2 linked regions of the Homo sapiens genome follow. The protein of the gene in region 2 interacts with the protein of the main gene of each other region in a pairwise test. Each region holds a gene or a part of one and is shown on either strand. Other genes may lie near its edges. The genes, in order: NGFR and UFD1.

Region 1 (4,051 bases), on a different chromosome or scaffold from region 2:
GAAAGTCTAGAAGGTTCTGTTTCCTCAACTGCGAAGTGGGAATAACTAAATTCACCTTGCTAGGACCTTATAAGGATTAAATAATTCAAGAGAAACTACCAGGGAAGTGCAAGGCACTTAGTAGGAACTCAGCACATGCGATTATTCCCGCCTCCCCACGCGGTCCCCCAGGGAAGAAGCGAGGCGCTTGAGCCAGACTGGGCTGGAACAGTGCGGTAGGGGCCCGTCCCCCGCGGAGCTGCCTCCCCATCCACCATCCACCCAGCTCAGCCCGGCCGCTCACGCACGCCCATTTGCTGCCCTCGTTCCATCCCTATTAGGCGCATTAGCCAGCCCGGCGGCTCTGGTTACAGACGTCTGAATGACAAAGTGCCTCCATTACCGGCGCGGCCCGCCAGCCGACCCGCCGGGACGCGCTCTGGTTTCAGCCCTCTCTCTCTCACCGCGGCCCAGGAAGAAACTCGGACCGCGCACAGCCATCCCAGACCGAGCAGCCGCGCGCCGAGGCGGAGGCGGGAGCCGCAGGGGCTGCAGACGGCAGGTTCCTGTCGGGGTACACCTTCCCAAGCGCCCAGGTCCTCCACGCCCAGCTCCCCTCCTTCCTTGGGTCTTCGCGCGGGGACCCTCGCTCTTGCCCAGACCCGGAGCCCAAGTCGTTGCCCCTCTGGGATCCGGTCCCTCCTCCCCGCTCTCCTGGTCTACGCTCGCCCACCCGCGTCTGAGCAGCGTCTCTAACCAGCGGCGTTAGTCAGCAGACGTGCCCGCGGTCGCTCCCAAATCCCCGGACGCAGCCACAGGTCCTGACAGCTCCAGGGAACTGGGGCTGAGCTTTCGGGCTGGGGCCCGCACCCGGACAGAATCTCTGCCCACCTCACCCGCAGGCTCTACCGCCGACGGACTCTGGGGACAGTGTCAACCCCCCCCGCCCTGCTGGGAAACGCAGCCGTGACCCCGAGCTGGGACAGCGGCTGCCCCCTGAAAAGGTGGGGGAGTACCGAGCTGGGAATCAGGTCGGGGAGTCTAGCCACGACTCTGGCCCAACTTGCTGTGAGATCTTGGCCAAGTCGTTTAAACTCTCAGAGCCTCAGTCTCCGTATCTGTAAAGCCGGAATTTGGGGCGCAGTGCTCTGATGAAAGATGCTGGCGGGGAGAGTGAAGACGCCTCCTCCGTTGCCAGACCTTCCAGGGCATTCGGTTCATGGCCATAAAGCAGGCCACATCTGACAATCTCGTCGGACCACCCGGAGGACCCGCCGACCTTTGCCGAGTCGGTGGCCCGGGATACCGCGCTACAGAATCCGAGGCGTCCGGGCGCCCCCGTCTCGTTAGGTGCCCAGCGGCTTGCACCGAGAGCCAGGAGAGGCTCAGACCGGATCCCGACCCTTCGAGGCGCGGGAGCCCACGGAGCGCGGTGGGCGCGGCGCTCGGGTCGCGCAGCTAGGTGGGGAGCGGCGCGCAGCCCCAGACTCGCAGGCAGGCAGCGGCGGACTGCACTTGCCTCGCCCCGCAGCGCCCCCTGCCTGCCGCCTCCCGCCTGCGTAGCCAGAGCTGCGCGCGGCCAGGAAGGGTCCCCGCCTAGTGCGCCCCGGCGCTCTGCACCCCGAGACGTAGCCACCGCCAGCCCGGGTAGGGGCACACCCGCTCCGTCCCTCGCGATCCGCTGCGCTGCTTCAAGCCGTGAGAACACGCGCGTCGGAGGAGCCCGCCGGCCGTGGGGGAACCCCGGGAGCGGGTTCGCCCCGGCGAAGTGGGCACTCCCCTCCCAGCCTTAGATCCGCAGCCCCAATTCCGGGACTGGGAGAGGCCGCGAGCAGGAGCGCGGGGACAGGCGCTGGAAATGTCCAAGCCTCTGCTCTCTCTTCTCGTCTCACTGTCCCTCAGCGGGCAGGCGGGACCCCGACCACTTCAGGGTCCGCGCCCCGCTCTGTCTCCTTTCCTTCTGCTTCCATCTCTCTGCCGCCCTCGCCGTCGCCCCTCTTCTGCCCTCCCTAACCCACTTCTCAACCTCTCTCCCGCTCCCCAACCTCTCCCTCCGACGCCCCTCCCCCCCATTGTCTGGCCGGTCCCCATTGTCCTTGCCGGGTCCCCTCTGCCTCCAGTCCCTCCGACCTCCTCCATTGTTCCATCCCGTCGTCCCGGGCTCCCCGCCCCAGCCCAGCTCGCCCCTCTCATCTCTAGTCCCCGTCCAGTTCCCCCTCCTTCTCTCGCCTTGGTTCTGTCCCACGACTCTCCAGAGACCGAGATGCTGAGGGGAAAGTCCCTTCGGGATCCCGGCATTCGAGTGTCCTCTTCCGAAGAACCTGGGCATCGGAGAGCCCCATGCCCCCTCTTGAAAGACCCCTCCCAGCTCCCCCACCGCCCCCTGCGGTACCTGAGGACCGGCATCCGTGCTCCGGTCTTGCCCTCATCTCCACCCTGGAGAGTCGCCTCTGCGCTCCGGGAACCCTAGACCCTCCTTCGTGGTCCCGGCATCAGAGGTCCTTTCCCACCACCCACCCTCAGTATCTGGGACCCCAATGCTCTGTTCTGTTTCCTTGGTGGCGGCGCCCGGCTCTTCTCGGAGTTCTGATCCCGGGAAAGGGAGCGGGCCCCCTCCGGCTAACACTCACCCCCAGAAGCAGCAACAGCAGCAGGCGCGGCCCGTCCATGGCGCGGCCGGTGGCACCTGCCCCCATCGCCCGCCTCCCGCGGCAGCGCTCGACTTCCAGCTCGGTCCGCTTTGCGGACTGATGGGGCTGCGCTGCGCTGCGCTCCAGCGCCCCCCCTGCCCGCCGGAGCTGGCCGCGGCTCGGCTCGCTCTGGCTGCGGGCGGGAGAGGCTGGGTGAAGCCAGTGCTGCGGCCCCGCCTCCGCCCCGCCCAGCCCGCCCACCCCCGGAACCGCGCCCGCCCGCCCTGCCGCCTCGGGGTGGGAAGCAGAGGCAAAGGGAGGGCGTGCGGTTCCCCGCACCCCGCTGCGCTTCTCCCTGCCTTGTCCCTTAGAGCCTCTCACCCATCCCGCCCTGGTACCCAGTTCCCGGCCCGCGCTACTGCGCGTCCGTCCCGGATGCTGTGGGCCCGGGGACCAGGGCGTCCCCACTGCGGTTCCTGTTCCTCTCCGGCTGCGGCCCGCCACAGGGTTCACTCTCTTACCCATCTTCCTCCGCCTCTGGCTTCACCTTCTCCCTGGAGCCTTGCTCCCTAACTGCCCCCTATCAGTAAGAATGCCCGCTTGCCCTCCCTGCCCTTCATCTCAGTCCATCACCCCACCTCCACCCCATCCCCACCCCTCCCCTTCCCAGTGCAGGAGATCCCTGGGCAGAGGCCTAGGGGGAGGGGAGGGGCGCAGGCGCCCTTACCTCGGCCATCGACATTCAAGGTGGAGTCCATTCCGACATCATTTGATTCTCAAATGAGGGGTTTGAAGGGGTCACAGGTGTGCACACAGTGCACAGGAATACACACTCTCAAGCTCACTTGTATGTGTGATCGTGCACTTACGTGTGCCCACACCGTTCTCATGCACTCCTGCCGACCTGACTGTCCCACACATGCACCTCTCCAGGCATGCACACGGGCACATATGTGATCCGGACATTCAAACGCGCATATGTACACATTCACACATGCATGTATACAGTCGTGTCTGCATAAGCCCTCACATGTATACAGTCACACAAACACACACATTCATGAGTGCACACACACACTGACACCCATCAACAAACAAACAGATGCATCTTCAACAATATAGACTTCACCAGACTGTGAGTGTCTCCATGGGCTTATGAGCTCTGCAGGCAGGGATTATGGTTTCTTCTCTGAATTCCTGGTATACAGTAGGGTTCAAGAAAGTTTTGTAGAAGGGAATAAATAGAAAAGTGGTGAAATGGACTCATATCTGTGTACCCATCCATGTGCTAGGACCAAATTCATCTTGCCCTAGAAACCTTGCCAAGTCCAAATAATATGCCTCCCAACCCCAAAAGCATGCCACCCACCCCCATGCTTACCCCTTTCCTGTTCCCTCCATTTCTTCGTTCCCAGACATCAAGACCCTGGAGCACAGAGTTG
Region 2 (4,010 bases):
TGCTTCCTGGCATCCTCCCAGGAGGGAAGCAGAAAGTAACTGACTTCTTGGTTTGGTATCAATATTGGGTATAGGGCCAGGGGCTTTAGGCTCTGTACCTGTCTATGGAGAGGGGTCATCTGAAGGATTGGGAAGCCCTCACTGTCACTGTCCTGAGCTTCACAGAACCCCCTGAGGTGGCTAGACTCTCACTCCAGTATTCTGATTTCACACACACAACAGACAACTGACACACCTCAGCCCTGCCCCTGCCATCATGGCCACCAGAGGAAGGGTCTGCTGTGGGTCCCCGGACCCAGCAACAGAAGCACATCTGAGGTAGCTCCTCAGGGAACTTTCAGGGGAACTGAGATAATGTGACCTGATTAATAATTCCAAGTCACAAAACAGGAAAATAGGCAGATCACCAAATAGGGACCAGAAAGGTTTTGAGTAAGAGACAGATCTAATCAGACTCGCATCTTAGGAAAGCCAGTGGGGGCAAGAAGAGGCTGAATTGGGGGTATGGAGAGGTATGGAGAGAGGCTGGACCACAGTGGTACTGGGGGTGGCACTGTGGAAGGAGGGGCATGTTGTGCTCCACCCCACCAAGGAGAGCAGCTAAGGGTTTTAGTCCCTTGGGAGACTACTGACCCAGGCTTTGTCTCCAGAACTGGGGTGAGGCTGCCCGACCCCAGCGGGCTGGCACAGATCCTCCTCCTGTCCTGGAGGAGAGCCAGGACAGACCTACCTTTTAATATCTCCAGGCTTGATTGGGGAGGGGCTGGGCTCTACCCCTTTCTTCTTTCCATCCAGTCTATTGCCAGATCCAGAGAAAGCCTAGACAGGAAGTAGGTGAGTCATATAATAAGCCCAAGTGTGAGGACGATATGTCCTTTGCTTGGAGATCACTGCAGGGATGTGAGCTGGGGGTGCTGTGCAGACCCCTTCAGGACTGAAGCCCTGACTCCTCAACTGCTGGGGTGCTGGCAGCTAAGAACTCTGCCCAGTTCCTCAGGGGGTGGCCATGAGCTGAAGACAGCCACTTGGCCAAGGGCAGCCAGCAGTCAGTGTTGGGTTAAAAGACCTGATCCCTGCCTCTGCAGGGCCACCCAGTTCAAGCTCTATGGGTGGGCTAAGGCTACTGTTGTGACTGCCCCATAGCTCAGCTTCCCATCATTCTGCCCTCTCTGCTGCTTCCTGGCACCTCCTGCCACCTCAGTGCCCACACATGAACCACCTCCACCTGTTTCCCATGGAGCCTTGCCAGTAGTTATGCTAAGGGTCATGTTTGCAACCTACATGGTACAGGCAAAGAAAAAAGGAAACATGATTTACAAGAGAGAGAAAGCAAATGTGGTAACTTTTGGTGAACCTAAGGGAACAGTATATGTCTACTGTACTATTTAAACTCTTCGGTAGGTTAGAAATTCTTAAAAATCTGGGCTGCCTTATGGGGCTGTTGGGAAGATTCCAGGAGAGAGTGGATACAAAAGGGTTTGGTAACTGAGCGAGTGGCAGATTTGCATATGCACAGGTACCCAGAGGCCTAACCCCTGCTGATGTCCATCGAGCATCATGGAGAACACCTTGAGTGAGTGCTCTAATTTCAAGGAGCAGAGGGCACAGCAATATAAGTCAAGTGGTCTGGTACTCACGCGGAAGCCCAGCTCTCCAGCATAGCCACTGTGGTCGGCTTCACCTTCCTGACAGGGAAAAAGAAAAACAGGTGAGCTCCTCAGCGGGGACACCCAGCTTCCCTCTCACCCCCACCCCCGGCTAGGATGTCCCCCGGAAGCATGGCTGGAAGGGACGCAGAGGATATGACTACACCAACACTAGCAGAGGCCACCCACGAGCCACTGCCAGGAACTCAAAAGCAGCATGCAGCAGGACAGCAAAGGACACTGAGGATAACACTTACTGTCGACTCCTCATGCTGGACTTGTCTTTCGGGTTCTTTGTAGCCCAGGGGAGCATCAAAGTCCACCTGTGTTTCCAGGATTTTAAAAGTAAAATATTGAGACATGACCACCCTTGGCTTCCTTTTTTGTTTTTAATTGAGACAACTGTAGATTCACATGCAGTTTTAAGAAATAATACAAAAGATGCCTTGTACACTTGCCCAGTTTTCCCAACGGTAGCATCTTACAAAATTACAGTAAAGTATTGCTGCCAGGATATCAACACTGGCACAACCCACTGCTCTTATTCAGATTTCCCCAGTTTTACATGTTTTTGTTCATGGGTATCTTTAGTTCTACACAATGTAATCACTGTGTGGGGCATGTATCCACCACAGTTGAGATGTAGAACAGTTTCACCACCACTAGGACTGCCCATGTTGTCTTTTTATAACCATACCCAGCTGTCTCCCAGCCCCCTCCACCAGTCCTAAGCCCTGGCAACCACTGGTCTGTCTTCCATTTCGAAAGTTCTGTCACTTTGAGGATGTTATATAACGAAGTAACTTTTTGGGATTGGCTTTTTTTGCTCAGCAGTATTCCCTAGTAATACAACCAGGATGCTGTGTGCATCAGCACTTCATTCCTACTCAGAAGGTTCAGTACGCTTCCTTAGCTCTTAAGCATATTCACTCCTCGGCCAGGCGCGGTGGCCCACACCTGTAATCTCAGCACTTTGGGAGGCCGAGGCGGGTGGATTACCTGAGGTCAGGAGTTTGAGACCAGCTTGGCCAACATGGTAAAACCCTGTCTCTACCAAAATACAAAACTAGCCGGGCCTGGTGGCACATGCCTGTAATCCCAGCTACTCGGGAGGCTGAGGCAGGAGAATCGCTTGAACCTGGGAGGTGGAGGTTGTAGTGAGCCAAGATCGCACCACTGCACTCCAGCCTGGGCAACAGGAGTGAAACTAAGTCTCAAAAAAAAAAAGAATATTCACTCCTCAACGGGTCAGAGCTAACCATGGCAGCACTGGCAGCAAACTCTGTTGCCCCAACTGGCCCTGAGATAGATCACAAGGTCACAGTCTCCTCATGATGTTCTGACAGCATCTTCCTCCTCTTTACCCAGAGTCCCAGGGGCTGTTTGATGCCCTCCTGACACCCTGGCCTGCAGTGGTCACCAACTGCCCATCCTCCCAGGGCCCAGGCTCACTGTAACTGGACAGAGCCACTCACGTTCATGTCACACTCAATGATGGACACTGCCTTGTCGGGTTTGGTCTCCATCACACGCAGTTCGTAGATCTGTGGGGCAAACACAGAAATCAGTTGGATGGTTTCCTGGCAGCACTGGAGCTGTCGCTGTCCATGTTACTGTGGCTCTACTGGCTCCTGCGAATGACACAGCATTCATGCCCATGACACAACCTACAGCTGCACTTCTTGCTGTGACAACACTGCCATAAGGGACAGGCTGCCCTGTGCCCATCGCTGAAGAGATGCTGTTCCCCAGATATGGTTCAAATTAGACAAGGTAGTTATACAGCTAACTGCAAAAGACACTAACAACCTTTAACCTGGAAAGTTCACTTCTGGAACTTTACTATTTATTTTATTTATTTATTTTTAGACAGAATCTCGCTCTATCGCCCAGGCTGGAGTGCAGTGGTGCGATCTTGGCTCACTGCAACCTCCGCCTCCAGGGTTCAAGCACTTCTCCTGCCTCAGCCTCCCTAGTAGCTGGGACTATAGGCATGTGCCACTACACCTGGCTAATTTTTGTATTGTTGTAGAGATGGGGTTTCACCATGTTGGCCAGGCTGGTCTCGAACTCCTGACCTCAGGTGATCCGCCCACCTCGGCCACACAAAGAACTGGGATTACAGACATAAGCCACCGCACTCGGCCTTCGAAATTTATTCTAAGTAAATAACTAGCTATACCCAATGAGAAAATTCTAAGAATGCTCATACCAACGTCACTAATACCACTGTACAGATGCTCCTTGACTTATGATGGAACCAAGTCCCATAAACTTATAAGTTAAAAATGTATTAATATTCCTAACCTACCAAACATCATAGTGCAGCCTGCCTTAACCATTCTCAGAACACATACATTAGCC

What was found.
Region 1: the proteins of UFD1 (region 2) and NGFR interact in a two-hybrid assay, tested with the Homo sapiens proteins (one large-scale study listed by BioGRID and IntAct).

What each region holds. Positions count from the first base shown.
Region 1 is NC_000017.11:49,494,042-49,498,092, reverse strand, and holds the start of NGFR (tumor necrosis factor receptor superfamily member 16 precursor), read right to left. Parts: upstream 2,801-4,051; 5' UTR 2,676-2,800; coding exon 2,610-2,675; intron 1-2,609. UniProt on the Homo sapiens protein: Low affinity receptor which can bind to NGF, BDNF, NTF3, and NTF4. Forms a heterodimeric receptor with SORCS2 that binds the precursor forms of NGF, BDNF and NTF3 with high affinity, and has much lower affinity for mature NGF and BDNF.
Region 2 is NC_000022.11:19,454,950-19,458,959, forward strand, and holds part of UFD1 (ubiquitin recognition factor in ER-associated degradation protein 1), read right to left. Parts: intron 3,191-4,010; coding exon 3,122-3,190; intron 1,970-3,121; coding exon 1,904-1,969; intron 1,686-1,903; coding exon 1,638-1,685; intron 820-1,637; coding exon 731-819; intron 1-730. UniProt on the Homo sapiens protein: Essential component of the ubiquitin-dependent proteolytic pathway which degrades ubiquitin fusion proteins.